2 separate regions of the Homo sapiens genome follow, and region 2 is linked to region 1. The links come from fine-mapping of genetic effects on gene expression. A gene starts in region 1. The other region holds a variant in brackets. All regions are shown on one strand. Distances are from middle to middle. Region 1 holds the start of SPATA21 (spermatogenesis associated 21). Region 2 overlaps NBPF1 (NBPF member 1).

Region 1 (15,481 bases):
GGTGATTTTGCTCCCCTGTCCCCAAGAGGACATCTGGCAATGTCTAGAGATAATTTTGATTGTCACAACTTGGGGGGTGCTACTGGCATCTGCTAGACATAGGCCAAGAATGCTGTGAAATGTCCTCACTGGGCTCCACAGCTCTCCAAAACAAAGACTCATCTGGCCCCAGGTGTCAACAGTGCTGAAGCTGAGAAAGCCTGGCCTAGAGTGATATGCTCATTACCTCATGGGAAAGTAAGAGTCTAACATGACCCAGGCATGACCTTGAGCTAAGAGCACCTTGGGGTGGGTCCCACAGGGGAGGCTCAGCCCTAGGCAGTGCCTGTTACGTTAGGGAGTCATGTTAAAGTCACAGCTGGCTGGGCACAGTGGCTCACACCTGTAATCCCAACACTTTGGGAGGCCGAGGTGGGCGGATCACGAGGTCAGGAGTTCAAGAACAGCCTGGCCAATATGGTGAAACCCCGTCTCTACTAAAAGTACAAAAAAAATTAGCTGGGCGTGGTGGGGGGGCGCCTGTAATCCCAGCTACCCGAGAGGCTGAGGCAGAGAATTGCTTGAACCTGTGAGGCAGAGGTTGTGGTGAGCTGAGATCGTGCCACTGCACTCCAGCCTGGGTGACAGAGCAAGACTCCATCTAAAAACAAATGATTTTTTAAAATAAAGTCGCAGTTACCAAATTCCTCAGAGAACGAGGTGTTACCATTCTCTTATGACACTACCTGGGGTGTCCCAGCAATTCTCCAGCTTAAAGTCTCTGGTCTGGCCATGGCAGCTGCCTCTCCAAACTCCTCTGCCGCCAGTACCCAAGTTCCCGAAGAACACATCAATGCTTTGGGTTGCCTCGCAGTCCGTAAAGCATTACAGAAATATCTGCTCACTTCCTATTCTCCAACAATCTTATGAAGGAGGAACTAATATGATCCCCATTTCAACAAGGAGGAGGCCAAGGCCCCAGAGGTCATGTGGCTCACCCCACATCCAGCAGCTCAGGCAGAACATAGTTCTGAGAAGAGGCAGCCAGTTCTCTCTCTAAACTTTTGCACTTTCTCTTCTGCTCTACAAAGGAAAATCTCTACATATTAGAAAAAATAAATGACCGAATGTTGTGGCACCTGACTGAGCAGACACTGTGTCCGACCCCACTAGGGGTCTCGGCTGGGGGATTCCAGGTGCACTGCCCTCCACAGCTCACCCAGAGGCACAGGTGGCCCAGGACTTGTGAAGTTTCCCCCAAGACGATCTCTGCCAGCTGACCCCAACACAACCCAGCTCAGCTCGTCCTCTCACTACAGAAAGAGCTGAGTAGGACAGTTTCCAGCTTCTTCGGTTAATGGGTGTGGTCAGCTCTGGGAGTTACCGCTGCATTGATAAACAATTCCTCAGTAGGAAGCAGAGCCCAGCGGCAGAGGGCTGTGCATCCTCACCCGCCTGTCTTCAAGGCCACTTCCAGGGCTTCCTACTTCCTACCAGGACCAAGCTGCGGTCTCCTCTCCTTGGCCCCCACATTTTCCTGAGGACTCCTAAAAGGAACTAGTGTTTGACATGAAATACTCATTTTTACACCTGGAGACGGTACTTTCTACAACTAAGGTGGGGGAATGGTACAGCTTAAAGGTACACACACGTCTCTGATTTTTCAGGACAGGTTCCCATGACCCCTGAGCAGCCTGGCCAGACCAGGCCACCTCTCCCTTCATAAAGTGGGGTGCGGCCCCTCAGCTTGATGCAGCCTCCCTTCCGGTTACCTGACGTCCTGTCCTCCAGCTTGATGTAGGCCATCTGTCCCTTTGCAGTGATCCTCAGCCGGCCACTCCATGATGGCTGGTCCAGCTGCCACTCCGCAGCCCTAAGGGGACAAACACCACTGAATCTCTGCCAGAGGCTCCTGCTGTGTGACCCCAATGCTGGGAATGGAAAGGGCTGCTTATTCTAGCCCAAGAGTTGGCAAACATTTTCTGTAAAGAGTCAGACAGTAAATATCTTTGGCTCTACAGGCCACACAGCCTGTCACAACAAGGCAGCTCGGCTGCTGTAGGGTAAAATCAGTATAGAACATGCACGTGGTGATGCTTTAGGTATCTTAACTATTTTCTACTGAGCACAGCTGTATTTCAATCAAAGTGTAGACACTGAAATCTGAAATTCATGTAATGTTCCCAGTATGAAATACTCTCCTTTAAAAATTTTCCAAACCATTTAAAAAATGTAAAAACTATTCTTAGGTGTGAACCATACAAAAACACACTGGGTTGTCACTTGGTGACCCCCTCTCTAGACCACAGTGTCCTCCTCCACGTAGGACTTCCTTCCAGTTTCCTTTCTATAGAAGCAGCAGCTGCAGGGGCCTGATTCTGTTTCTGACACTGCTTGACTGCAGCAGTCAGAGCGACCATTTGAGACCAGTGAGACTATCTTGAAAGAAAAAGACAGCATGGAACAATCACCAGAAGAGAAAAGGAGAACAACAGTACATGTGAGAAAAGTGAATGGGTCCTTAGGAAGAAACCCAGGAAACCATGAACCTACAGCAATGCCTCTTTTGGCTCTAATTTGTTTGAGACGGGGTCTCACTCTGTCACCCGGGCTGAAGTGCAGTGGCGCAACTACGGCTCACTGAAGCCTCAACCTCCTGAGCTCAAGAGATCCTCCCACCTCAGCCTCCTGAGTAGCTGGGACTACAGGTGTGTACCAACACACCAGGCCAATTAAAAAAAATTATAGAGATAGGGTCTATGTTGCCCAGGCTGGTCCTGAAGTCTTGGGCTCAAGGGATCCTTCCACCGAGGCTTCCCAAAGTGTTGGGATTACAGGCGTGAGCCACCACAGCCAGCTGTTTTGACTCTTTTAAAGCATTAACTTCACATTTTAGTTCTAAGAAAAGGTCAGTTAAATCCCCAAATAGCAAGAACCGCAGGTGTTTCCAGGAGGCTTTTCTTAGAAGTCCCTATGCCAGTTCTCAAGAACCCTGGACGCGGCTGTCTTGAGGGCTGCACAAATGCAGATTCTCAATTCACAAATCAGCAGACTCAGTTCCTGTTCCTCTTACCAGGCCTGAGATTCAGGCTAAGGAGAGCTCCAAGACTTAAGTGCAGGCACTGGTAGTTTCCTCTAAGCTAAACCAGCCAGCCCTGACAATTCATAACCTCGCTCTCTGGGGCACCAAGAGGAACCAAATCCATCCTACTAAAGACCCAATAGGGGGCCGGGCGCGGTGGATCCTGCCTGTAATCCCAGCACTTTGGGAGGCCGAGGCGAGTGGACCACCTGAGGTAGGGAGTTCGAGACCAGCCTGACCAACATGGAGAAATCTCATCTCTACTAAAAACACAAAATTAGTCGGGTGTGGTGGTGTATGGCTGTAATCCCAGCTACTCGGGAGGCTGAGGCAGGAGAATCGCTTGAATCCGGGAGGCGGAGGTTGCAGTGAGCCGAGATCGCACCATTGCACTCTAGCCTGGACAACAAGAGGGAAACTCTGTCTCAAAAAAAAAAAAAAAAGACCCAACAGGAGATGGGGCTAGACGACCATCAATGGTTTGATGGTCCAACCACAGTTTGATGACAGAAAACAAATGTATTTTGGTTATTGTTGTTTTTGTTTTTATACTATTTTAAAATATGTCATGAATGTAATGTTCACTAACGCATCTTTTCACCATAAGATCAGCTATGAGCCCACGGTAACACAACTGGAAAGTAACAAGAGGAAATGTGGACGTTCCATCATTCTTGGGGTGCAGACCAATCCTGTATTTCCGAAAAACTTGGACAACCATCGCCTTCAAGAGCCACCCAGGCCCCCGCAAATACGAGCACTCCCCACCACCACTCAGTGGCACAAAATAGCCATAGGCCAGGTTGTCTGTATGAAGTGTATCTTTTTTCTTTTAATATTTTTCGTCGTTTTGATAGATAACGCATACAAAGAGTAGTAAAACGCAAACAGCACAAAAGGGAAAGGAAGTTTCCTTCCAAGGGCGGTTCCCCTCCCCTAGGGCAGTTTCCTGTGTTCCTTTGCAGAGATACTCAGTATGTTTACAAGCGTGTGTGTTTATTCGTCTCAGGTAGAGACCAGAGAAATATAGAAGGGGTCCTCCCAACTGCTCCAGGCTGTGATCAAGGGTGAAATTCGTGCGAAGGGATCTGGGTAGGAAGGGGTCCCTGGGCTTCGACCGTCACCTTAAAGCTCCCCGGGACCGGTCCTTTCAGCCGGCTCTGGGCTCCCTCCCCTCCTCTCGGGGATTTCCGTCTGTGATAGGGCACCTCCCCGCTTAAGGCTTTTCGAGGATCCCTTCAAGGCCACCGGTTAGCGCTGAAAGAGAAGCGTCTGTGACATCACCACCCCCGACCAAGTTTAGGGTACCCGGCAGCCCACCGGGGTCCCTAAGCGCTAGATACGGCTTTAACGCCCTCCCCGCCGCCAGGAGTCCCGTGCGTCGAACTGAGACGGGCGAAACTCTGGATCCACCTCCCTGCTCGGGCCTGGAACTGGAAGAAGCAGCAGCATTAGCTCCCCCTCGCCCCAAAACTGGCCAGGGCTGTCCTCGGTTCCCGCAGTGGGTGTGTCCGGGTGGCGGAGAAAGGGTTAAATTGGAGCTAGCCTGGTCTGGCGGTGGGTAGTCACCTGTAGCCACGGTTGGTAGCCCGCGGAGGGATGCGGTAGACGTGGACGTCAGGCTTGACACAGAGCACCGACTCGTACCCGCTCTCCTCCATCGCGACGCCTGGAGCCCACCGAACTTCCGGCGACTTCCACCGTTCCTCTGTCCGACGGACGGAAGCGGTGCGACTCTCTGACCAGGTTTCGGCTAGAGCGGCAGCTCGCGGGCCTCAGCACCGCCTCGTTTGTGCGCCCTCTGCTGGAAACCCGGCTCAAGACACGTGGCGGGCGACCTCCGGAGGCTTCTCCCTCCCTCCAGAGGCTTCTCCTTCCCTCCAGACACCCTCCGACGCAAAGAAAGCGCCCTGCGCCCGCCATGGACAGACCCCTCTGTAACCCGTGGTCTGGGTGTGGATCATCCCCATCGCTTCAGTTTCTTAGGCCTGGGGCCCAGTTGACCGAGAGGCAAAGCTGTAGCCCACCCTGCAGTATCTCTGTCCTCCAGCCTTTGCCTCGGCGCCTCCTCTGCCTGAATATCCTTCCCTCTCCTGACTGTAAGGCTCAGCTGGCACCTGACCCACCAGACTAAATAGATGCCATTACCCTACCACCCTCCATGCTTCCCCTAGGGGAACCCACTTATATGCTCAGGGCCCCGTGTGGCCAAACCTCAACAACGAGTTGTATTCAAAGAAGTAAAGTTTAGTAACACAAGTAATTTAAGAAGAATTCCAGGCCGGGCTTGGTAGCTCACGCCTGTAATCCCAGCACTTTGGGAGGCTGAGGCGGGCGGATCACCTGAGGTCAGGAGTTCGAGACCAGCCTGGCCAACATGGTGAAACCCCGTCTCTACTAAAAATACAAAAATTAGCCGGGCTTGGTGGCGTGTGTCTGTAGTCCTAGCTAGTTGGGAGACTGAGGCACTAGAATCGCTTGAACCCGGAATGCGGAAGTTGCAGTGAGCTGAAATTGTGCCACTGCACCTCAGCCTGGGTGACAGAGCGGGACTCTGTCTCAAAAAAAAAAAAAAAGAAGAAGAAGAATTCCAGTCTTAACTTCGATTTCTCCCAGAATATTCTGGGAGATACAATGTCTACCCTAGCCAAATTCTCAAAATCCCTCCTTCCCTACCATTCTCTCATTGAGTTGAGTGCCTGCAATGTGCCAGCCCCTATGTGGGGGTGAAGCTGATCCCAAACTTCTGATTCACTGAATACCCCAAACTTTCCCCACCCCTTCTTTCCTTTTCTCTCTCACTCTCCTTCTCCTTTTTACTTTTTTTTTTTTTTTTCTTCAGACAAAGTCTCACTCTGCCGCCCAGGCTGGAGTGCAGTGGTGCAATCTCGGCTCACTGCAACCTCCACCTCCCGGGTTCAAGCGATTCTCCTGCCTCAGCCTCCCGAGTAGCTGGGATTACAGGCACCCACCACCAAGCCTGGCTAGTTTTTGTATTTTTTTGGTAGAGACGGGGGTTTCATCTGGTTGGCCAAGCTGATCTTGAACTCCTGACCTCAAGTGATCCGCCCACTTCGGCCTCCCAAGTGCTGGGATTACAGGCGTGAGCCACCACGACTGGCCATTTCTACTCATTTTTTATAAGCTTTTTATTATAGGATTGATCTAACCACTTACATTTTTATTGTAAAATATACATAACATAAAATTTACCATTTTAAGTGTACAATGCTGTGAAATTAAGTACATTCACAATATTGTGCAACTATATCATGCTTTCCAGAACTTTTCATCATCCCAAACAGAAACTCCACACCCATTAGCAATAACTTCCCATTTCCTTCTGCTCCATCCCTTAGTAACCTCTGTTTTACTTTCTGTCTCTATGAATTTGCCTTTTCTAGATACCTCTTATAAGTGGAATCATACAATATTGGGCTTTTGTGTTTCTTATTTCACTTAGCATCAAGTTTTCAAGGTTCTTTCATGTAGCATGGATCAGAATTTCATTCCTTTTAATGGAGGGATAATATTCCATTGCATGTATATACCATATTTTGTTTATCCATTCATCTGTCAACAATTGGGATGTTATCACCTTTTGGTATTGGGAATCGGGCTACTATGAGCATTGGTGTTCAAACACTTGTTCTAGTCCTGTTTTCCATTTTCTTGAGTGTATACATAGGAGTGAAACTGCTGAGTTATACAATAATGCTATGTTTAGTGGTTTTGTTTTGTTTTGTTTTGTTTGAAACAGCATCTCACTCTGTTGCCCAGGCTGGAAAGCACTGGCATGATCATGGCTCACTGCAGCCTCAACCTCCCAGGCTCAAGTGATCCTCCCAACTCAGCCTCCCAAGTAGCTGGGACTACAGGTGTGAACCACCATGTCCGGCCTTGCTCACCTTTTTGAGGAGCCTCCAAACTGTCTTCCACAGCAGCAGCACCATTTACGTTCACAAGGGTTTCAATTTCTTCACATTTTTGCAAATATTGGTTATTTTTCTTTTCTTTTCTTTTCTTTTTCTTTTCTTTTTTTTTTTTTTTTTAGACAGGGTCTCTCTCTTTCTTTCTCTCTCTGTCACCCCACACTGGAGTGCAATGGTGCGATCATCACTCACTGCAGCCTCAAATTCCCGGGCTCAAGGGATCCTCCTGCCTCAACCTTTTGAGTAGCTGGGCCTACAGGCACACACCACCCTACCCTGCTATTTTTCTTACTTTTTGTAGAGACGGGGGTCTTGCTATGTTGCCCAGGCTGGTCTTGAATTCCTGTCTTCAAGAGATCCTCCTGCCTCAGCCTTCCAAAGTGCTAGGATTATAGGCATGAGCCACCATACCTGGCCTTATTTTCCAATTTTTTTTTTTTTGAGACTAAGTCTCACTCTACCACCCAGGCTGGAAGACAGTGGCATGATCTCAGCTCACTGCAACTTCTGCCTCCCAGGTTCAAGTGATTCTCGTGCCTCAGCCTCCTAAGTAGCTGGGATTACAGGCATGCGCCACCATGCCTGGCTAATTTTTGTATTTTTAGTAGAGACGGGGTTTCACCATGTTGGCCAGGCTGGTCTATAACTCGACCTCAAGTGATCCACCCACCTCGGCCTCCCAAAGTGCTGGGATTACAGGTGTGAGCCACCGCACCCAGCCATTCAGAGCACTTTCAGTTCTGTTCAGTCTAACAAAGACAGGCATCGAGCACATACCCTATGCCAGGTGCTGAGTACTGGGGTCACTGGGATGTGGCCAATCCAGCTCCTACCATCCTGGAGCTCGCAGACTGGAGGAGACAGAGAGAAAAGCAGTCATTGGCAAAGCAGAATGAAAGGTACTGTAATGAAGCAAATTCACAGGGGCCTGTGGGAGCAAAGAGAAGAAACCCCACACAGTCTGGGGAGAGTCAGGGAAGGCTTTCTGGGAGAGAGTACCCTGGCCCAATAATCACTGTGAGGTTGGCAAGGCAACGATTGTTATCTTCATTGTGTAATGGGGGCCACTGAACCAGTGACAAGCTGGGGGAAATGACACTGTCCAGTAGTTGGAGGTCACACAGCCCCTTGCCTTATTCTCAAACCCTAACCACATGGCTGGATATTCCTGAAATGCATTCCTAAACCTCTGCTGCTGAGAATAATTGGACCTGCCATCTATTCCCAGTTTAACTGCCCTGTATACCAAACAAATCCAATTCAAGCCAACAGGCAAAGTATAGGCTCAGACAGAGCCCATCCTATGTGCAAGGCGGTGAGCAGGGGTGGAAAATCTCACTGTGACTCATCCAGCTGATTTCTGGTAGGTGCAGGGCCAAGGTGGGGTGTAAGGTGAACAAGCTTTCCCTGACGGCCTCCAGACATATATATGATATGCCACTTATCTTTATCTGCTGTATTTTCCTGCCATCATAGATATTTCCAAGAGAAATTCTCCCATTTTTCAGATGAGGAAACCACTTATAAAAGGGGCACTCAATACCCAAAGAATTTTGAAAAAGAACAAAGTTGGAGGACTCACACTTCCTGATTTCAAAACTTTTTATTTATTTATTTATTTATTTGTTTTTCCATAGGTTATTGGGGTACAGGTGGTATTTGGCTACATGACTAAGGTTTTTGTTTTTTGGTGTTTTTTTTTTGTTTACATTAGTAATTTTTTTTGAGACGGAGTCTTGCTCTGTTGCCCAGGCTGGCGTGTAGTGGTGCAGTCTCTGCTCACTGCAACCTCCATCTCCCAGGTTCAAGCGATTCTCCTGCCTCAGCCTCCCAAGTACCTAGGATTACAGGCAGGCACCACCATGCCCAGCTAATTTTTGTATTTTTAGTAGAAACAGGATTTCACCATGTTAGCCAGGGTGATCTCAAACTCCTGACCTCGAGTGATCTGCCCCCCTTGGCATCCCAAAGTTCTGGGATTACAGGCGTGAGCCACCTTGCCCTGCATGAGTAGGTTCTTTAGTGGTGATTTGTAAGATTTTGGTCCACCCATCACCTGAGCAGTATACACTGCACCCTATCTGTATTTTTTTTTTTTTTTTTTGAGACAGAGTCTCACCCTGTCATCTAGGCTGGAGTGCAATGGTGCGATCTCGGCTCACTGCAACCCTCCACCTGCCAGGTTCAAGCAATTCTCCTGCCTCAGCCTCCTGACTAGCTGGGATTACAGGCATGTGCCACCATGCCCGGCTAATTCTGTACTTTTAGTAGAGACGGGGTTTCTCCATGTTGGTCAGGCTGGTCTCAAACTCCCAACCTCAGGTGATCTGCCCGCCTCGGCCTCCCAAAGTGCTGGGATTACAGGCACGCACCACCACACTCAGCTAATTTTTTGTATCTTTAGTAGAGATGGGGTTTCACCTTGCTGGCCAGGCTGGTCTCAAACTCCTGACCTCATGATCCGCCCGCCTCAGCCTCCCAGAGTGCTGGGATTACAGGTGTGAGCCACCGCACCAGGCCGATAAATGGGACTTTTACAAAAATTTAAAACTTCTGTGCTTCAAAAGACAAAAAGGTGAAAATGTAATCCACATAATGGGAGAAAATTTTTGCAGATCATATATATGATTCAGGACATGTATCTAGAATTTATAAAGAACATTTACCGTGCAATAATAAAAAGACAACCCAGTATAAATGGACAGAGGCAGGCTGGGTGCTGTGACTCATGCATGTAATCCCAGCATTTTGGGAGGCTGAAATGGGAGGATCACCTGAGCCCAAGAGGTCAAGGCTATAGTGAGCCACGTTCATGCCACTGCAGTCCAGCCTGTGGACAGAGTAAGACCCTGTCTGAAAAAAAAAAAAGGGGGGGGCCGGGCATGGTGGCTCACACCTGTAATCCCAGTACTTTGGAAGGCTGAGGTGGGCAGATCACCTGAGGTCAGGGGTTTGAGACCAGCCTGGTCAAGATGGCAAAACCGCGTCTCTACTAAAAATACAAAAATTAGTCTGGTGTGGTGGCACACACCTGTAATCCCAGCTACTAGGGAGGCTGAAGCAGGAGAATTGCATGGACACGGGAGACGGAGGTTGCAGTGAGCTGGAACTAGGCCACTGCACTCCACCCTGGGTGACAGAGCGAGACTCCATCTCAAAAAAAAAAGGACGAAGGCTCTGAATAAACATTTTTCCAAAGAAGATAGACAAATGGCCAATAAGCACATGAAGATGTCCAACATTATCGGCCATTGGGGAAATGCAAATCAAAATCAGAATGAGATAACACTTTACACTCACATCCACTAGGATAGCTATGATAAAAAAGACAAGTAAGGCGGTACAGTGGCTCACACCTGTAATCCCAAAACACTGGGAGGCTGAGGCGGGAGGATCCCTTGAGCTGAGGAGTTCAAGACCAGCCTGGACAACATAGTGAGATTCCCATCTACAAAATATTTGAAAATTAGCCAGGTGTGGTGGTGTGCACTTGTAGTCTCAGCTACTCAGGAGGCTAAGGTGGGAGGATCCCTTGAACCCCAGAGTTGGAGGTTGCAGTGAGCTATGGTCATACCACTGCACTCCATCCTGGGTGATAAAGGAAGACCCTGTCTCAAAAAATAAATAAATAAATAAATAAGACAGATAATAACAAGTGTTGGAGAGGATGCAGAAAAATTGGAGCAGTCATATGCTGCTGGTAAGAAGGTAAAATGATACAGCCACTTTGAGAAAGTCTGGCAATTACTCAAAAGCTAAAAATAGAGTTGACATGTGATTCAGCAATTCCGTTCCTATATACATAACCAAGAGAAATGCAAATGTATGTTCATATAAAAACTTGTACATGAATGTTCATAGCAGTGTTATTCATAATAGGTAAAATGTGGAAACGGGCCAGGCATGGTGGCTCACACCTGTAATCTCAGCACTTTGGGAGGCCAAGGTGGGAGGATCACTTAAGCTCAGGACTTTGAGCAGCCTGGGCAACCTAATGAGACCTCGCCTCTATTTAAAATTAAAAAATTTTTAAGACGAACCAGGCATGGTGGCATGCGTCTGTAGTCCCAGCCAGCCACTCAGAGGCTGAGGGGAGAGGATCCCTTGAGCCCAGGAGTTTGAGGCTATAGTAAGCTACGATCGCACTGCTGCACTCCAGCCTGAGTGACAGAGCAAAACTCTGTCTCAAAAAAAAAAAAAAGAAAGAAAAAAGAAACAACCTCAATTTCTATCTACTGATGAATGGATAAACAAAATGGGGTCTAGCCATACAGTGAAATATTACTCAGCCATAAAAAGGAATGAAATTCTGATGTGTGCTACAACATGGATGAACCTTGAAAACATGACGTTAAGTGAAAGAAGCTACTCACCAAGGACCATATATTGTATGATTCCATTTATATGGAATGTTCGGAATAGACAAATCCACTAAGACAGAAAGTAGATTAGTGGTTACCTAGGGCTGGGTTTGGGGTGGGAAGATTGGGGATGATGCCCAAGGGGTGTGGGGTTTCTTTTTGGGGTGATAAAAATATTCTAGAATTAGGGCGAGGGTGGTACAACTCTGTGAATATCCTAAAAGCCGTTGAATTGTACACTTTAAATGGGTGAACTGTATGGTATGTGAGTTAAATTTCAATAAAGCTGTAAACAAAAAAGGGTCCCAAGTGATCTGAAAGGGTGACATAGTCGATATTTGTCAACTTCTCTCCCAGTTCTACCCTTGGATTCCAAGCCCCTCTGCTAGGGCTGGGGCTTCCCCTCCTTGTCTAGATTCTCAGAGTTAGCAAGCTCCAGATGTGGACAGATAGGGGCTGGAGCCCCTCTGGGGCTTCTGCCTCCGTAAAACTTCAGTTTGTGGAATACTGGGGCCTGACAATTCCAAGGCTGAGCCTGCACATTCTCAGGCAGAGACAGTGGACAATAGGGGGTGTGTTTGAGGGGCGTAGGGGGAGATTTTCCCTAGGTGGTTCATCCACCCCTGAGACAGGAAGACTCAGAGGAAGCGGGAATGGCTAGGGGAACCCTAATGAGAAAGAGGCTGGGGAGGGGCAAGGAACTCCAAGGCAAGAGAGAAGGACTTGGCCACAGCCCTGACTTTTCCGCTCCAGGTGACAGCCTGGTCCTTCGTGAGGCCAGAGCTGCACCAGGGGTGGGAGGTCACCCCACCAAACCAGCTGAGGTCTGCTTTGCATGGCAGGGGTGCAGCTGTAACTGCAGGAAGGGCCTGGAGGGCAGGAAAAGGAAGTGCGAACTTGGGTCAGCAGCTATTAAGTGCGCCTCCTCTGTGTCCCTGGTAAACTGTGGGAACCGTCAGGACACCCAGTGTATCCCCTAAGGCCTGACGTTGTCCCTAGCACGGGCACGTGTCATTAAACAGTTATCGATTGCACAAGGAAATGAATGAATGACTTAAGCTTCTTTGTAGGCAAAATGATATGATGAGATGAGTGGCCATGGGAGTCAGACAGGCCTGGGTTTGAATCCAGTTCCTCTGCAGACTGGCCATGTGGTATCGGACAAAACATTGCTCAGAGCCTTAATTTCCCTATCTTTAAAACAGGGCTGAACCCAGACTTCACAGGGCTGTTAGGAGAATACTGTTTACAAAGGTTTCCAGCACATGGAAGGTTCCTCCGTGGATGCTGGCGGGCCTGCCATGATTTAAAGTGGAAGAAGCACCATCAAGATCTTCAAGGTCATATGGTCTCACTACAGGAGGAAGGGGCATGGGGGTTAGGATTTACTCCTGGAAACTAGTTAACAGTGAAAGGGGGTCCATGTACCCATAGAAATGGTGCTGATGTTGCCTCAAAGGAATTCAGTGGCTGGAGAGAGAGCTGAGATGGTTGGAAACTTGGAGAAGAGGGAGGAGCTTGAAGGATGGGTTGGGGGCTATCGGAAAGATAGAAAAAATGGGAGGTGGGCACAGAGGCTGGGGTCTGTGGGACTAGGATTGCAGGAGCCTGCCTGGATTAAAACAGAAAGTTTGTGTAGGGGGTGGTGGCACAGCTGAACATGAGGTTGGATGAAAGAGGTGGAGGAGAGATGAAAGGCTTCAGAAATGGCCAGGTGCAGTGGCTCACACCTGTAATCCCAACACTTTGGGAGGCCGAGGCGGGCGGATCACTTGAGGTCAGGAGTTCAAGACCAGCGTGGCCAACCTGGTGAAACCCCATCTCTACTAAAAATACAAAAATTAGCCGGGCATGGTGGCGGCCGCCTAAAATCCCAGCTAGTAGGGAGGCTGAGGCAGGAGAATTGCTTGAGCCCAGGAGGCAGAGGTTGCAGTGAGCCAAGATTGCAGCACTGCACTCCAGCCTGGGCAACAGAGCGAGACTCTGTCTCAAAACAAACAAAAAAAAAAAAAAAAGAAGAAGAAGAAGAAGAAAAGAAAAAGAAAAAGAAAGGATGTGTCCAGGGCAGGGTGTGGGTGCTTTGGTGAACTGCAGATTGCCGCTGGAGACTTTGGGGCCCTGAGACAGATGGACAGATGTCCCTAGTTCTTGTTCCTTAGCCCCATCTAAGAACATGGAGTTTTCATCTATAGCAGGAGCAGCTGTGACATTCTTGGACTCTCTTTAAAAGGCACATTAGTATTTTAAAGGCTCTGAGAAGTTGTACAGGAAAGAGCCTGTATCATTTCGCTCATCACAGCACTTTCCAAAGGCATTTAGCCTTGGAACCCCTTGGAGCATCTGAAGGGACCAGTATGCCAAAGAATACCCTGTAGGAAATGTCGCCGTCGGGGAAAGCGCCTGGGTTTTGGGATTCAACAGGCCATGGTTCAAATCCTCGTCTGCGACCTAGCAGGTGTTAGATCTTGGGCAAGTCTTGTGCCTTCCAGAGCCCCTTTTCCTCAGGGTCATAGTGAGAACTAGGAAAAGCGTATGGGTAAATGGCATGTGGCTAGCTCTCTGGTTTTGCTGCGTGCCTCTCCTTGCAAGGCCTGGCCCCGCCTCTTCCCTCGAGCCAGGCTGTCTACATTATAGGCTCCAAGTGGGCTCCTGAAGCAGCAGTTAGGTGATGGGCTTGGTGGGACGCTTGATTGGATTTCTCCTGTAGGAGCACACTAGGTGATGCCCCTCACTTGGCACCCGTGTTGGCGCTGGCATCATGGACAATAGAAACACCCAGATGTACACGGAGGGTAGAACCAAGGCTCCAGGGACGCAGCCAAGTCCTGGCCTGAGGATCACCATAAAGAGGGCTGGTGTTGAGCCCATCATACCAGGAGTCAGCAAGGTAGGGACCTGCACCCCATGTTCTGATCCATTCACTCCTAGCTGGCACCTTTCCCTTCCCCTGCCCAGGCTTCCTCCCCAGCTGCTTTAATTAAGACTCTGTTAAAAATGGACACAAAACCCAATTCAAACTGGATTAAGCAGAAAAGAGAATATATCAGTTTGGGTAACTGACACATGCCTTCATAGACTTCAGGTATGGCTAGATCAATGTGCTAAATGAGTATCTCTTGGCTCTATGTTCCTCCGTGTTGGATTCATTCTCAGGCAAGCTCTCCCTGCAAGATGGCAGGGATTGCCCTGGCCACTCCAGGATTACATCTTCCCATCTTACACCCTCTGGTTTAGCATTCCAACAGGAAGTGAGCCTCTTTGCAATAGTTGAAACAAGTCTCTAGCATCACTGTCATTGGCCCAGATTGTGGTCAGATGCTCATCCTTGAACCAATCACCATGGCAGTGGGGAGTGGTCTGGATCTCTTGATACAATGGAGACAGAGGTGATAGGTGGCTCCACTGAGCCCCATGGGCTGAATGGAGAAGAGAAGCTTCCCAAAAACAATGCTGGCTTCTGTAACGGAAAGAGCTGCAGGGTGAGCAAACCCAGAATTGCCTACTCGCTCTTCTAGGTGCCTTGCATGGCCTCCAAACTCCCCTCACAGCCTCCAGCCCAGCTTTATTCTCCTGAGAGCTACTCAGGGCTTCCCTCCATGCCCCTCCCCAGAGCCCAGCCTGCATCCTAAGCTTCCATCACACCTCTCAGCCTCTTTCCATCAAATATGTTTATTAGTTTGTTTGTTTGTTTATTTTTGAGACAGGCTCTCACTCTCTCACCCAGACTGGAGTGCAGTGGTGCGATCACGACTCACTGCAGCCTCGAACTCCCAGGCTTAAGCGATCCTCCTGCCTCAGCCTCCTGAGTAGCTGGAACTATAGGCGTGGCTTGTGCCACCATACCCAACTATTTTTTTAATTTTTTGTAGAGACAAGGCTTTATCATGTTGCCCAGGCTGGTCTTGAACTCATGGGCTCAAGTGATCTGTCTGCCTCAGCCTCCCAAAGTGTTGGGATTACAGGCATAAGCCTCCGTGTCCGGCATCTTCTTTTTTTTTTTTTTTTTTTTTTTTTTGAGATAGAGTCTTGCTGTCACCCAGGCTGGAGTGCAATGGTGTGATCATGGCTCACTGCAACCTCTGCCTCCTGGGTTCAAATGATTTCCGTCTAATTTTTTTTGTATTTTT
Region 2 (15,481 bases), 150 kb before region 1:
GGGAGAACTATTTCCAAATTGTATGTTTGACACAGGTCTAGTACCTAGAGTGTATAAGGAATTCATATAACTGAGCAATAAACGACAACCACATTTAACAATGGGGAAAAAAAGCTGTGAGTAGAGGTTTCTCTAAAGGAAACACACAAATGGCCAAGAAGCACATGCAAAGATGTTCAATGTTTTTCGTCATTAGGAAAATGTAAATTTAAACCAAAATGAGATACCACTTCACACCCAGCAGTATGACTTAAGAAAAAAATAAAGACAACACATGTTTCAAAAGTGATGGAGAATATGGAATTCTCATATATTACTATTGGGAATCTAAAATGATATAGCTACTGAAGTTAGTAAACAGTGTGTGAGTTCCTCAAAAAGTGAAACATAAAGTGACATATGATGCAGCAATTGCACTCCTAGGTTTATAACCAAGAAAATGAAAAACAGATGTTCACTCAAAAACCTGTACAAAGCTGTTCACAGCAGCATTATTCCTAATAGTTAAAAAGTGGAAACATCTTAAACCACCATGAGTTGATGAATAAACAAAATGTGGTATAACCATATAGTGGAATATTATCTGGCCATAAAAAGTTGAAGTACTGACGCAGGCTAGAAAGGATGAAACTTGAGAACAATATTCTAAGAAGCAGATAGAAAATACCACACTTTGTTATTCCATATAGAGGAAGTGCCCAGAACAAGTACATCAATATATAGAGAAGGTAGATTAGTGGTTGTCAGAGAGCGCAAGAAGGGGGGAATTGGAGAGTGTCTGCCCATAGGTACAGGCATGCTTTTTGGCATTATGAAAATATTCTGGAATTAGGTAGTGGCGATGGTTGCGAAAGTTTTGGAATATGGTAAAAGACACTGAAATGTATGCTTAAAAATGGTGAATTTTGTGATGTATAAATTCTACTGTAGAAATAATAATAACAACAAAAGTAATAAAGCAAGGTGTCTTTCCACATCTCCATGTCCAGTATTTTCATTAAAAAAAAGAAAGAAATAAAAGCATTTCAGGGCCAGGTTCAGTGGCTAACTTCTGTAATCCCAGCACTTTTGGAGGCCTAGGTGGGAGGATCGCTTGAGGCCAGAAGTTCAAAACCAGCCTGAGCAACATAGCAAGACCTTGTCTCTATGAAAAATATAAAATTAGCCAGAAATGGTGATGTGTGCCTATAGTTCCAACTACTTGGAAAGCTGAGGCAGGAGGATCGCTTGAGCCCAGAAGTTCAAGATTGCCGTGATCTATAATCACCAGTGCACTCCACCCTGGGTGACAGAATAAGACCCTGTCTCAAAAAAAAAAAAAAAAAAGCATCTCACTTTAATAGTAAGTGGCCAAAATATGATGCTGGCTGCATGTTGTGAGGAAATGTGTTAGATGAAAGAAGTCAAATTGCAGAAGATTTCCTTTTCTCAGAAATGAGGTATAGGGGAGAGAAGCACTGGTCCACCTGAGATCTGGCTCCAGGACTTACAACAAGGGGAACTTGGGCAAGTTACAGACTCTGTGTGCCTCAGTTTCTTCATCACCAAACAGAAAGAATCATCCCATAAACTGTAAGGTCAATGCTGTCAGTGAGTCCCCAAATTGACTGCACATCTGAGTCATGTTAACAAACATTCCAGGCCCCACCTGAGCCCTCTGAATCAGAATCCCTGCAAGGAGGACAATGAACTTGTATTTGCACTGACTTTCCCAGCTGTTTCTTACTTTGATCAAGTTGGGGGTGGGACCCATTGAGCTGCATCACATCATTCCAAAGCCAAAACACAACAGCAGAACAAGAATATTTTCAATGCGGTCTCTAAAGCGGAGGAGAAACTGTTGAGGGAACCTAGAAGTAAAGGACATCTGGCTTGCTGGGCTCCATTTAAACTTTGAGTATAGCAGAGACACGAGCCCTTCGGGACACATGCCTGTCGCAGTGACACTCCAACTTCGGAAGAGTGGAAGCCCTGATTCCAAATTCAAGCATGCTTTGAGTAGAAATTAAGTTTGCCTCTTTTTGCACAGGAAGATGGCCAATCTTTCCTAAGCTGCTCACCTTACAAGAAAACGAATCGTACTGCTAAGAATTCAAACTTCAGCAGTCATGGGTAAGTAAGGAAGTCTTATAAATCTATTTTAGCCACCTAACAAGAAACTAGAAATTTAGCAAGTTCTTTCACATTCAGGACAGTTGTGTTGACTAGATCAGAGGCACTGAGACATGAAGAACAGACCCCTAAAAAGGGAAAGTGTTCCTTTCAGTTTGAGGACATCACTGGAATATTAGGGAAGTGGAAACACAGCTGCCCACTCTACAGTATGGGTTGCCTTTGTGTCCGGAATGTGCCTAATGTCCTGATCTCTGTGCCCTTTTCAGGGAGCCTTGGAAGGAGCCCGAATCACTGATGGAATTGGACAGTGCATGGAGATGGTTCAGCAGGACAAGGGTAAGTGCAGGGGCAAGTCCAGGTCATACTGAGAGACAACGAGTGGCGCTGACAGAGACAGACAAAGATAAAATCAAAAGTTTGTGCTTCATCTTCAAAAACTCAAACTAATAACAAACTTGGCCTTATGAGAAATAATAAGTATTTTTCTATTTACATGAGAATTTAATCTCAAAACAGGAATCAGAAACATATTAAGTCCAGGGCATAAAACCTAAACCACTGCTCATATTTATTCTTTCTAAATAGAGCAAAGTGTAAAATCTTCTCCATAAAATGCACATTGTGCTTATGAAAAGGCCAGTCTTAGTGAGAATCATTGGTATTCCATAGAAGAGTGAATTAAACACAGCCAAGGGAAGACCCAAGTCTCATACTTCTCTTGTATATTCCAGAGTTCCAGGGGAATTCCAGGTGATAGAGGTGATCTCCCATACTGTTAAAGCAAGGTTGCAGACACTTGGGAATTTTGGTCCCAGTACTCTAGGAGGTCACACCTCTGTCCTGGAAAATACTACAGGAATGTATACTCTTCCTATGACTCATTCTGGTCATTCTTCCAGCATCACAAAAACCAAAAAAAAAAAAAGGAAATATGTCCAAATACATGATTTGCTATCCCTCCTCTTCAGGTTTCTTACCTGTTACTTACGGATAACAGCATTACCACAGGATTATGATGAAGATACAATGTCCAAATATAAACACAGTTTTGAGCAAAATGCCTTGTACGAATTGGTCAATGAACAACTAGTAAATAATTATGTGAATATTTACTGAATTATATGGATCCTATGAATAATTACTGAATAATTCATGTGATTGCTTTTATTGGCAGTGCTGAAAACTCATCCCCGTGTGACCTCAAGTAAGCCATGTAACTCTGTGAACCTGCAGTTTTATCATTTTTAAAATAAAGAAACATGACAGATTTTCATTATGACACAGAATGTCAGGTCTCCCAGATGCCAGAAAATACATTTACTTAAAGCCGTTGATACGTCTTAAAGCGGTTTCCTTACAGTGTCATTGGAGGACAGTGTGGAGTGCAGAGAGACATGCTTTGAAATGGGATTGATCCAGTCCTCCTTCCTTCACTACCACATGAATGCTGGGCAGCCCAGGGTCAACCCACCGCACCCTCAACTCAGGCAAGTCCAGCAGCCAATCTTAGGAGACCTGGGCTACAGAACAGTCTCCCAAGTTCCAGGCTCACAAAACCTAGGTGGGGTGAAAGCTGAGAAAGCGAGGAGGTGGTTCAGGGGATCACTCTTTCCTACTCATTCCTCTCATCTCAAACTCACCTTCTACTGCAACACTGAGGATCACCAACCAACCGTGACCATAACCTTGATCTTGCCATGTTCTGTTAGTGGAATGCAACCCAAAATCAATGGTGTTAGGTCATCTCAACAAAATATATATCAAACCATATTGCATAAGAACCGCTCATGGCCCTGTTCTTTTCAGTATATGGGAAAACAAAATGGAAACAACAAAATAGCATCAGGTTTATGAAACTTCCCAAGATAGATGGTCACACATGTTTTCAGGAGATCTCTATATAAATGATTTTGATCACTTGATACCTTGAAAAGAGCTCTTGTGACACTAGAATGACATCCATAAGTGACAAGTATAAAATGTAGCGCTCAGTGACATCAAAAACCAAATCAACCCACATAGAGGAAGAGCTCTGGACATAGGGATGTCAAACTGGTCTAGAGTGTAATGAAAAGCAAAGATGGTGCCCCAGTGAGAAAAAAGAAATCAACATAACAATGGGAAACAGCAAGAAGAATACTGAGACAGGAAAGACAACATTTTTTACAAATGAATTATTCATTCACTTTCTAGTGGATACAGACAAAACTGCAGAAGACCCAGAGGAAATCAGGGCAGGCTAAAAGTTTGATATCTTACACCTGTGGAAAGGCCTTAAGCTCTGTTTTAACTGAGAGCAGGTGGGGTGACTTCATGACTACCATTAAGAAAATACAACCTGTTGGGAAACTGTTTCTGCCTTGATGATGTTGTACAGACAAGAGATAAACAGTGAGGAATATGCTTAGATGTATTGGGAAAGACACGGGTCTGTGGCATCATCACAAGGGTACACGAATACTGAGAGTGAATGCTGAAGGAATGATCCCCATTGGTGGTGACCCTCAGGTGAGACTAGGGTGCCTGTGTTTCAGGAAAGCCTGGGCAATTGGAATGCAGGGCTCCTAAGATTCCATGACACCCCCACCTTCTAATTCTGTTATTGCAACTGCAGACGGTTACCTGGCACGCTGGCCACAGTCTACCTCACTCTTATCAGAGTCTGAGCTACTGGCAGTGCTTTCAGCTCTGAGTTCAGGCACCTCGAACCTTGTTTTTGTGGTGAAGGATCCTAAAGTGCTGTGGGGAGTGATCACATTTTTCACAACAGTAAGTTAAGAATTTCAGTTACTGACATCCCTCAGTCCTGATTAAACCTATTTGATTTCACCAGTTTTTAACCCATCATATGTTTGGGTTTCTTCTCCCCAGTCCCTGGCTCCACCTCTTCTGCCACAAACGTCAGCATGGTGGTATCAGCTGGCCCTTGGTCCAGCGAGAAGGCAGAGACGAACATTTTAGAAATCAACGAGAAATTGCGCCCCCAGCTGGCAGAGAACAAACAGCAGTTCAGAAACCTCAAAGAGAAATGTTTTGTAACTCAACTGGCCGGCTTCCTGGCCAACCGACAGAAGAAATACAGTAAGATCTATAGGCTCACCATCATGAAAGTGATGAATGATGTCCTGTCTTCTCTCTGAGACACTAAATGCTCTCTCCATCAAAAATAATTTCATCCTTCCTGTACTTCTAGGAAAACAGAAATGGGTATTTTAACATTTTGTTAAAGTTGGAAGACAGAGGTACCAAAGTATTTAGCAACTTTCCATGTTTGCAATCAGGTGGGGGTGGGACTAGAGTTAAACTCACAGTTATTGATTTCTAACACAGACACAGAACGACCTGTTTTCTCCAAGAGGCTCAATCATGTTTTCAAGAATCCTCTCTGTACCATATAAGATCCTGCAGACAAATAACATCTAGTCTGTTGTTCTAAATGTCTGAGACTAGTGAACTTTTATTCAGTTCAAGTTTCTGTTGAGGCCCAACAGGCAAGGCTCTGTTCTAGTGACTCTGAGGGAAACTTGGTGATAGTAGCCAGTACCTGCTCTGAGGGGCTTCAAGAGGAGTCTGCTCCTAATAGAACCTGTGCTATCTATAAGTGACAGCATCAAGAGCAGGGAGTAGGGGCCGTGCAACGTGGCTCACTCCTGTAATCTCAGCACTTTGGGAGGCTGAGGCGGGCAGAGCACGAGGTGAGGAGTTTGAGACTAGCCTGGGCAACATGGAGAAACCCCATCTCCACTAAAAATACAAAAAGTAGATGGGCGTCGTGGCGGGCAACTGTAATCACCACTAATCGGGAGGCTGAGGCAGAAGAATCCTTTGAACCCAGCAGGCAGATGTTGCAGTGAGCCAAGATTGCACTATTGCACTCCAGCATGGGTGACAGGGCAAGACTCATCAAAAAACAAACAAACAAAAAGATAAATAAAACAAAAATAAAAATAAAAAGCAGAGAGTACCTTGGTGAGAGTGAAGTCCTGCTTCCTGGTGCACAGGCTCTTGTTCCTAAAGAGGAAGAAAGATCACACCCGAGAATGTGTGGAAGCAGCAGTGCAGTGTGCAAAGCAGGGACCCTCAGCCTGTCTCCTGGGCTCCATCCAAGTTGCTTGTCTTGTCTGTCCCTCAGTTTCCTCATCTGTTCAGAGGGTACTACAATAATACCTACCTCTGTAAATTGCTGCAATGAATTACATGAGGTATTTCCTGTCAATCTCCTTGAACATTAATTGGCACAGTGTAAACACTATCTATTAGTTCTTCATTCTGATGTTTCTAAATTAACACAAACTAATCTTATGCTGTTTCTAAATTAACACAACTAATCTAAATCTTGATGCTGCCTGTCATACTAATAAAATATTTGGGCATATTTCCTTCATGGCCTTATGGTGTTATGTGTCACACTTTATGCTTCAGATATGATTCTTAAAATCATAACTGAAGATATGATTTAAAAATCAAAGATTTTTAAAATCTTTCGCATACTTGTCTTTGAAATTCCCAGTAAAAGGGAAACCGTCAGTCCCATAGTCCTAGGGGCCTTCCCAACTGTACAAGAAATCACTACTTCATGCCCCAGTGCAGTGTTTCAGAGGAGAGGCTGCAAGTCTTGGGAAAGTGGCCCCGCATTCAGAGTCAGACCTCAGGGGCTGTGAGTTCTGACTCCACTTCGTTGTGGTTGAATCATCTTGTCAACTTCCTTGATGTGCCTTGAATTTCTCTTTCTTCGTCTTTAAATTTTGGAGGATAAGATGCCAGAAAGTCAGGAGACTGAAGAGTAAAGATGTGGAAATCCCTGCCTAGAGCCTGGTACGGGGGACAGTTTTGTCCTTGGGATGGACCTGGCTTCTGCCCTGTAGGCAGTGACCACAGCAGCATGT[C/A]CAGCCTTCCACTGAGGCAGGCGTGTCTGTCTTTTCTCAGAGTATGAAGAGTGTAAAGACCTCATAAAATTTATGCTGAGGAATGAGCGACAGTTCAAGGAGGAGAAGCTTGCAGAGCAGCTCAAGCAAGCTGAGGAGCTCAGGTGAGGGGACCCCATGGGGGCAGGCAGGGGAGCAGCTGTGTAAATCTCTGAAGTACAGCAGCTCGGTGGGGAGACGTAAGAGCTAAGCTGGGCCAGGGGAAGGGCAGGAATTGCCATGGCAGGCTCGCAACACACAAGTATTTATCAAGCAGAGAAGAAGGATAATAAAAATTTATGGGTTGCAGTTGTTTCTTAGAGCCTTGTTTTCTCTTTTTCAAACAAGTAATTGTTGATGTGAAATTTACATAACACAAAATTAACCAAAGGAGTGTGAACCACACAGCAGCATTCAGTATACTCAAAATGGTGTGCCATCGCCACCCCACTTACCCTTAGTGAGAATCACCTTCTGACTGACTGCGTCTTCTCATTCTTTCACTCAATCAATGTTGCCTTCTCGACCCTGTCATTCTTTTCTTCTTTCGTCTTTTCAATTCGCCCCATCTGCACCTGGCCTCATTTCTGTACATGGCTTTGTATCTAGTGGCCGCAAGATGCACTATGTGTATTTTCACATGGAAATGTCCATGGCCAGAGTGAGGAACTGAAAGGATGTCTTTTTGAAACGGAATTAGGAAGACACCTACTTTTGTTTACAGAAGGGAAAGATGAATGGAACATCATCGAGGATCTTGCAGGAGCCCTCTCTGATACAGAGGAAGCCTGTAAACCATTTTCTATTCTTTCTCTTGGCCACAGTCATTCCTTTCAACATGTGCTGACCTTCTGCTTGGAGGTCTCCTTGAGGACATTGTCTCAGAAATCTCTGTTGCAATATTTGAACGGATCACTCAACCCTTTCCACTCTTAAATTTTCTCTACCGTCTCACCTTAGGCAATATAAAGTCCTGGTTCACTCTCAGGAACGAGAGCTGACCCAGTTAAGGGAGAAGTTACGGGAAGGGAGAGATGCCTCCCGCTCATTGAATCAGCATCTCCAGGCCCTCCTCACTCCGGATAAGCCAGACAAGTCCCAGGGGCAGGACCTCCAAGAACAGCTGGCTGAGGGGTGTAGACTGGCACAGCAACTTTTCCAGAAGCTCAGCCCAGGTAAGGTGGCCATAGGCCCTGATGACCCAAAACCCCAGGCTTATGAGAGGCTCCAGACCTCCATACTTTCACAATGACAGTTGTATCAGTGGGGTTTTTTTCTGCTATACATATGTGGCCATGACATGACCAGGACTTCCTGGGTAAGAACAGAGATGGGAAACCCATGGGGTTGGAGGTCACAGTATTGCAAGTGTCCCTCCTTCCTTGATGGAAGGTGGTCTTTGGAGCAAGAGGCAGCATCTGTCTAGTTTTAAAGGACAGGAAGGAGGCTGTGATGGGAGGGCGCTTGTTGGAGTGAAAAGAGCTCTGGGCTAAGAATGAAGGTTCCCAGGCTGTCTTTTTGACAATGTTCTTAGTAACTGTCGGTGAGTGAGTGATTTATCTTTCCAGAGTTTCTCTCTCTCCATCTGCAAAGGCAAACAAATTGTCTCTTGCAAGGGTCTGAAGCATCCAAATATGGGAACACTTACGAATGCTTTTTAAAATGAGATGAAGCCCCTCTCCGTTTGGTGTTGGAGAAGGCACTTGGTGTAGGGGCATTTGGTGGTAGGAAGTGCTTCAGACTGGAGCACTCCCCGTGGATAGAATGTCCCTGAATAACACAGCAGAAGCCACATGGAGGGCCTGTGCAGTCTCATGATGCATAGAGGACTGTGGGACAAGTTTGTCCTCTCCTAAGAGAAAGAATGAGGTTTGAAATGCGAACTGTGACAGGACACCAAGCCTGTTCCTGGGAATCAGATATGTGGCAGGATGGGGGCGACAGCTGCCAAAGTCCAGAGAGAGGCTGCACAAGCCTCCAGTGATATGGGAAGCAAAAGGTCTTTTCAATATTTGACCACATCTTGATGGTGGCCCTCCAGATCAGAAATGCATTGCCCGATGGACCAGGAAACCATGCCAGGGCATTTTGTGAAAGATAAAATATGACAGTTTTCAGTACAGTGCTGAACCATACATAGATGTTCATGTCTCTGTGCACATTGGGCTGACTGTGCTTGCAGAATGTGAAGTGGGAAATATCTGAACGAACATTTTGTATTTACAGAAAATGACGAAGATGAGGATGAAGATGTTCAAGTTGAGGAGGCTGAGAAAGTACTGGAATCATCTGCCCCCAGGTAACACTGAATACTCGGGAGCAAGTAATGGGTGGTAACATATGAAAATGTGTAGGAGGCACACCCTCTCTGGCATCTATGATGGGCCAAAAGCCCGCATTCGCTTGGCCACAGTATGTGAAATTCAACCCAGCTTAGACACAGGGTGCGGCAGCTGTCGTGTTTCTCTATGTGTGCCAAGTGTCATGTCTGTACCATACAGGGATAGCTGAGTCTTCATCCTCCTCAGCTCCTATCTGTCCAGTGCACTGAACACCAGCTGCTCTCTTCCTCTCTGGCTCCCATGGCAGCCATGCTCTGTTGCAGAGAGAAGAGGATTGCCTGTTCCCCCTTAAAGGGAACCTCCATTTTGCTTTCTGGGACCACTGTCTTAATGCCGCCTGTCAAAACCAGCTAGGACTCCCTGGGGTCCAATCCCTCTGTGTTTAATCTTCTGTCATCTCTGTCCCACCTGGCTCATCAGGGAGGTGCAGAAGGCTGAAGAAAGCAAAGTCCCTGAGGACTCACTGGAGGAATGTGCCATCACTTGTTCAAATAGCCACAGCCCTTGTGACTCCAACCAGCCTCACAAGAACATCAACATCACCTTTGAGGAAGACAAAGTCAACTCAACTCTGGTTGTAGACAGAGAATCCTCTCATGATGAATGTCAGGATGCTGTAAACATTCTCCCAGGTAGCCTCTATTTTCCTTGTGTCTCATACCTCTGTCTAGGCTATGGAAGATCAATTCTGAGGACAGGCTGTATATACACATATTGTTATTCTTTTAGTCAGAAACTAGGATGGAGCTAGGTTCTGTGACTCACACATATAATCACAGCACTTTGGAAGGCCCAAGTGGGAGGATGACTTGAGTTCAGGAGTTGAAGACCAGCCTGGACAATATGGTGAAACCCATCTTTACAAAGAATACAAAAAATTAGGCAGGCATGGTGCTGCGTGCCTCTAGTCCCAACTGCTCAGGAGACTTAGGTGGGAGGATCGGCTGAGACGATCCTCCCACCCTGGTTCACTCCTCTCAGGCTAGACTCTCTCTCCTTTTCATTGGCTTGTCTTAGCTATTAATAAGAAGTCTCGGCCGGGCGCGGTGGCTCACACATGTAATCCCAGCACTTTGGGAGGCCGGGGCGGGTGGATCACGAGGTCAGGAGATCGAGACCATCCTGGCTAACACGGTGAAACCCCGTCGTTACTAAAAATACAAAAAAAAAAAATTAGCTGGGCACGGTGTTGGGCGCCTGTAGTCCCAGCTACTCGGGAGGCTGTGGCAGGAGAATGGCATGAACCCAGGAACCGGAGCTTGCAGTGAGCCTAGATTGTGCCACTGCACTCCAGCCTGGGAGACAGAGCGAGACTCCATCTCAAAAAAAAAAAAAAAAAAAGTCTCTGACCGGGGGTGCTGGCTCACATCTTAATCCCAGCACTTTGGGAGGCCAAGGTGGGCGGAACACCTGAGGTCAGGAGTTCGAAACCAGCCTGTCCAAGATGGCGAAACCCAATCTCTACTAAAAATGCAAAAATTAGCTGGCATGTTACTTGGCGCTTGTAATCCCAGATGTTTGGCAGGCTGAGGGATGAGAATCACTTGAACCCGGGAGGCAGAGGTGGCAGTGAGCTGAGATTGCGCCACTGCACTGCAGCCTGCGTGACAGAGTGAGACTCCGTCTCAAACAAAAAACAAAAAACCAAAAGAGAAAAATATCGAAAAAGGAAAATGCAATCTTTTGTGCTACACAGAAACATTGGCCACTCATGGGGTAAAAATCTCAGGGCCCAGCCTTGCTTTATAGAAACTTATAAGCAAGAAAAGTGTAGAAGTGTTTATGTCCTGGTTTCAAGGTGACTGCATAGCTAAGACAAGTTGACTTAAAGGAGATCAAGACTGGAGATGACAAGAGTGAAACCAGGGAAACAACATTTTCAAATAAGTAGACAAGGCTGCCACTGACATCCCTCAGTGTGATTAAACCTATTTGATTTCACCAGTTTTTAACCCATCATGTGTTTGCCTTTCTTCTCCCCAGTCCCTGGCCCCACCTCTTCTGCCACAAACGTCAGCATGGTGGTATCAGCCGGCCCTTTGTCCAGCGAGAAGGCAGAGATGAACATTCTAGAAATCAACGAGAAATTGCATCCCCAGCTGGCAGAGAAGAAACAGCAGTTCAGAAACCTCAAAGAGAAATGTTTTGTAACTCAACTGGCCTGCTTCCTGGCCAACCAGCAGAACAAATACAGTAAGATCTATAGGCTCACCATCACGAAAGTGATGAACGAAGTCCTGTCTTCTCTCTGAGAAACTAAGTGCTCTCTCCATCTAAAATAATGTCATCCTCCCCATACTTCTAGGAAAACAGAAATGGGTATTTTAACATTTTGTTAAAGTTGGAAGAGAGAGGTACCAAAGTATTTAGCAACTTTCCATGTTTGCAATCAGGTGGGGGTGGGACTAGAGTTAAACTGCCATTTATTGATTTCTGACACAGGCACAGAATGACCTGTTTTCTCCAAGAGGCTCAATCATGTTTCCAAGAATCCTCTCTGTACCATGTAAGATCCTGCAGACAAATAACATCTAGTCTGTTGTTCTAAATGTCTGAGACTAGTGAACTTTTATTCAGTTCAAGTTTCTGTTGAGGCCCAACAGGCACAGCTCTGTTCTAGTGACTCTGAGGGAAACTTGGTGATAGTAGCCAGTACCCGCTCTGAGGGGCTTCAAGAGGAGTCTGCTCCTAATAGAACCTGTGCTATCTATAAGTGACAGCATCAAGAGCAGGGAGTAGGGGCTGTGCATGGTGGCTCACTCCTGTAATCCCAGCCCTTTGGGAGGCTGAGGCGGGCAGATCACAAGGTCAGGAGTTTGAGACCAGCCTGGGCAACATGGAGAAACCCCATCTCCACTAAAAATACAAAAAGTAGATGGGCATGGTGGCAGGTGACTGTAATCACCCCTGCTCAGGAGGCTGAGGCAGGAGAATCCTTTGAACCCAGGAGGCTGAGGTTGCAGTGAGCCAAGATTTTGCCATTGCACTCCACTCTGGGTGACAGGGCAAGACTGGTAAAAATAATAATAATAATAATAATAATAATAATGATAAATAAAAATAAGAATAAGAAGCAGAGTGTAGCTTGGTGAGAGTGAAGTCCTGCTTCCTGGGGCACAGAGTCTTGTTCCTAAAGAGGAAGAAAGATCGCACCTGAGAATGTGTGGAGGTAGCAGTGCAGTGTACAGAGCAGAGACCGTGGGCCTGTCTCCTGGGCTCCATCCAAGTTGCTTGTCTTGTCTGTCCCTCAGTTTCCTCACCTGTTCAGAGGGTACTACAATAATACCTACCTCTGTAAATTGCTGCAGTGAATTACATGAGCTATTTCTTGTCAATCTCCTAGAACATTTATTGGCACACAGTAAACACTATCTATTAGTTCTTCATTCTGCTGTTTCTAAATTAACACAAACTTTATTAGCATTTGGGCATATTTCCTTCATGACCTTATGGTGTTATGTGTCACACTTTATGCTTCAGATATGATTCTTAAAATCATAACTGAAGATATGATTTAAAAATCAAAGATTTTTAAAATCTTTCGCATACTTGTCTTTGAAATTCCCAGTAAAAGGGAAACCGTCAGTCCCATAGTCCTAGGGGCCTTCCCGACTGTACAAGAAATCACTACTTCATGCCCCAGTGCAGTGTTTTAGAGGAGAGGCTGCAAGTCTTGGGAAAGTGGCCCTGCATTCAGAGTCAGACCTCAGGGGCTGTGAATTCTGACTCCACTTCGTTGTGGTTGAATCATCTTGTCAACTTCCTTGATGTGCCCTTGAGGTTCCCTTTCTTCATCTCTAAATTTTGGAGGATCAGATGCCAGAAAGTCAGGAGACTGAAGAGTAAAGATGTGGAAATCCCTGTCTAGACCCTGGTACTGGGGAGAGTTTTGTCCTTGGGATGGACCTGGCTCCTGCCCTGTAGGCAATGACCACAGCAGCATGTCCAGCCTTCCACTGAGGCAGGCGTGTCTGTCTTTTCTCAGAATATGAAGAGTGCAAAGACCTCATAAAATCTATGCTGAGGAATGAGCGACAGTTCAAGGAGGAGAAGCTTGCAGAGCAGCTCAAGCAAGCTGAGGAGCTCAGGTGAGGGGACCCCATGGGGGCAGGTGGGGGAGCAGCTGTGTAAATCTCTGAAGTACAGCAGCTCGGTGGGGAGACGTAAGAGCTAAGCTGGGCCAGGGGAAGGGCAGGAATTGCCATGGCAGGCTCGCAACACACAAGTATTTATCAAGCAGAGAAGAAGGATAATAAAAATTTATGGGTTGCAGTTGTTTCTTAGAGCCTTGTTTTCTCTTTTTCAAACAAGTAATTGTTGATGTGAAATTTACATAACACAAAATTAACCAAAGGAGTGTGAACCACACAGCAGCACTCAGTATACTCAAAATGGTGTGCCATCACCACCCCACTTACCCTTAGTGAGAACCACCTTCTGACTGACTGCGTCTTCTCATTCTTTCACTCAATCAATGTTGCCTTCTTGACCCTGTCATTCTTTTCTTCTTTCGTCTTTTCAATTCGCCCCATCTGCACCTGGCCTCATTTCTGTACATGGCTTTGTATCTAGTGGCTGCAAGTTGCACTATGTGTATTTTCACATGGAAATGTCCATGGCCAGAGTGAGGAACTGAAAGGATGTCTTTTTGAAACGGAATTAGGAAGACACCTACTTTTGTTTACAGAAGGGAAAGATGAATGGAACATCATCGAGGATCTTGCAGGAGCCCTCTCTGATACAGAGGAAGCCTGTAAACCATTTTCTATTATTTCTCTTGGCCACAGTCATTCCTTTCAACATGTGCTGACCTTCTGCTTGGAGGTCTCCTTGAGGACATTGTCTCAGAAATCTCTGTTGCAATATTTGAACGGATCACTCAACCCTTTCCACTCTTAAATTTTCTCTACCGTCTCACCTTAGGCAATATAAAGTCCTGGTTCACTCTCAGGAACGAGAGCTGACCCAGTTAAGGGAGAAGTTACGGGAAGGGAGAGATGCCTCCCGCTCATTGAATCAGCATCTCCAGGCCCTCCTCACTCCGGATAAGCCAGACAAGTCCCAGGGGCAGGACCTCCAAGAACAGCTGGCTGAGGGGTGTAGACTGGCACAGCAACTTTTCCAGAAGCTCAGCCCAGGTAAGGTGGCCATAGGCCCTGATGACCCAAAACCCCAGGCTTATGAGAGGCTCCAGACCTCCATACTTTCACAATGACAGTTGTATCAGTGGGGTTATTTTCTGCTACACATATGTGGCCATGACATGACCAGGACTTCCTGGGTAAGAACAGAGATGGGAAACCCATGGGGTTGGAGGTCACAGTATTGCAAGTGTCCCTCCTTCCTTGATGGAAGGTGGTCTTTGGAGCAAGAGGCAGCATCTGTCTAGTTTTAAAGGACAGGAAGGAGGCTGTGATGGGAGGGCGCTTGTTGGAGTGAAAAGAGCTCTGGGCTAAGAATGAAGGTTCCCAGGCTGTCTTTTTGGCAATGTTCTTAGTAACTGTCGGTGAGTGAGTGATTTATCTTTCCAGAGTTTCTCTCTCTCCATCTGCAAAGGCAAACAAATTGTCTCTTGCAAGGGTCTGAAGCATCCAAATATGGGAACACTTACGAATGCTTTTTAAAATGAGATGCAGCCCCTCTCCGTTTGGTGTTGGAGAAGGCACTTGATGTGGGGGCATTTGGTGGTAGGAAGTGCTTCAGACTGGAGCACTCCCCATGGATAGAATGTCCCTGAATAACACAGCAGAAGCCACATGGAGGGCCTGTGCAGTCTCATGACACATAGAGGACTGTGGGACAAGTTTGTCCTCTCCTAAGAGAAAGAATGAGGTTTGAAATGCGAACTGTGACAGGACACCAAACCTGTTCCTGGGAATCAGATCTGTGGCAGGATGGGGGAGACAGCTGCCAAAGTCCAGAGAGAGGCTGCACAAGCCTCCAGTGATATGGGAAGCAAAAGGTCTTTTCAATATTTGGCCACATCTTGATGGTGGCCCTCCAGATCAGAAATGCATTGCCCGATGGACCAGGAAACCATGCCAGGGCATTTTGTGAAAGATAAAACATGACAGTTTTCAGTACAATGCTGAACCACACATAGATGTTCATGTCTCTGTG

The links. PIP is the estimated chance that this variant, and not a neighbour inherited with it, causes the effect.
Region 2: its variant is fine-mapped to the expression of SPATA21 in cerebellar hemisphere (GTEx, PIP 0.97).

What each region holds. Positions count from the first base shown.
Region 1 is chr1:16,430,003-16,445,483 of GRCh38, reverse strand. SPATA21 (spermatogenesis associated 21) reads left to right here and starts at 8,060. Exons shown (of 13, transcript NM_198546.1): 1 at 8,060-8,356; 2 at 12,560-12,694; 3 at 14,062-14,146. The coding sequence starts at 14,113. It overlaps NECAP2 (NECAP endocytosis associated 2), which reads right to left and starts at 4,760. Exons shown (of 8, transcript NM_018090.5): 1 at 4,631-4,760; 2 at 1,752-1,852. The coding sequence starts at 4,722. RefSeq lists a silencer at 7,160-7,330.
Region 2 is chr1:16,581,562-16,597,042 of GRCh38, reverse strand. NBPF1 (NBPF member 1) reads left to right here. Exons shown (of 18, transcript NM_001405701.2): 3 at 2,030-2,112; 4 at 2,382-2,451; 5 at 3,290-3,602; 6 at 4,730-4,884; 7 at 4,987-5,196; 8 at 13,347-13,449. The coding sequence starts at 5,022. Among named protein-coding and RNA genes, the nearest start is that of NBPF1, 24 kb to the left of the region's middle. RefSeq lists a silencer at 4,971-5,160 and an enhancer at 6,488-6,987. The variant C/A (reference allele first, on the strand shown) is at 7,002.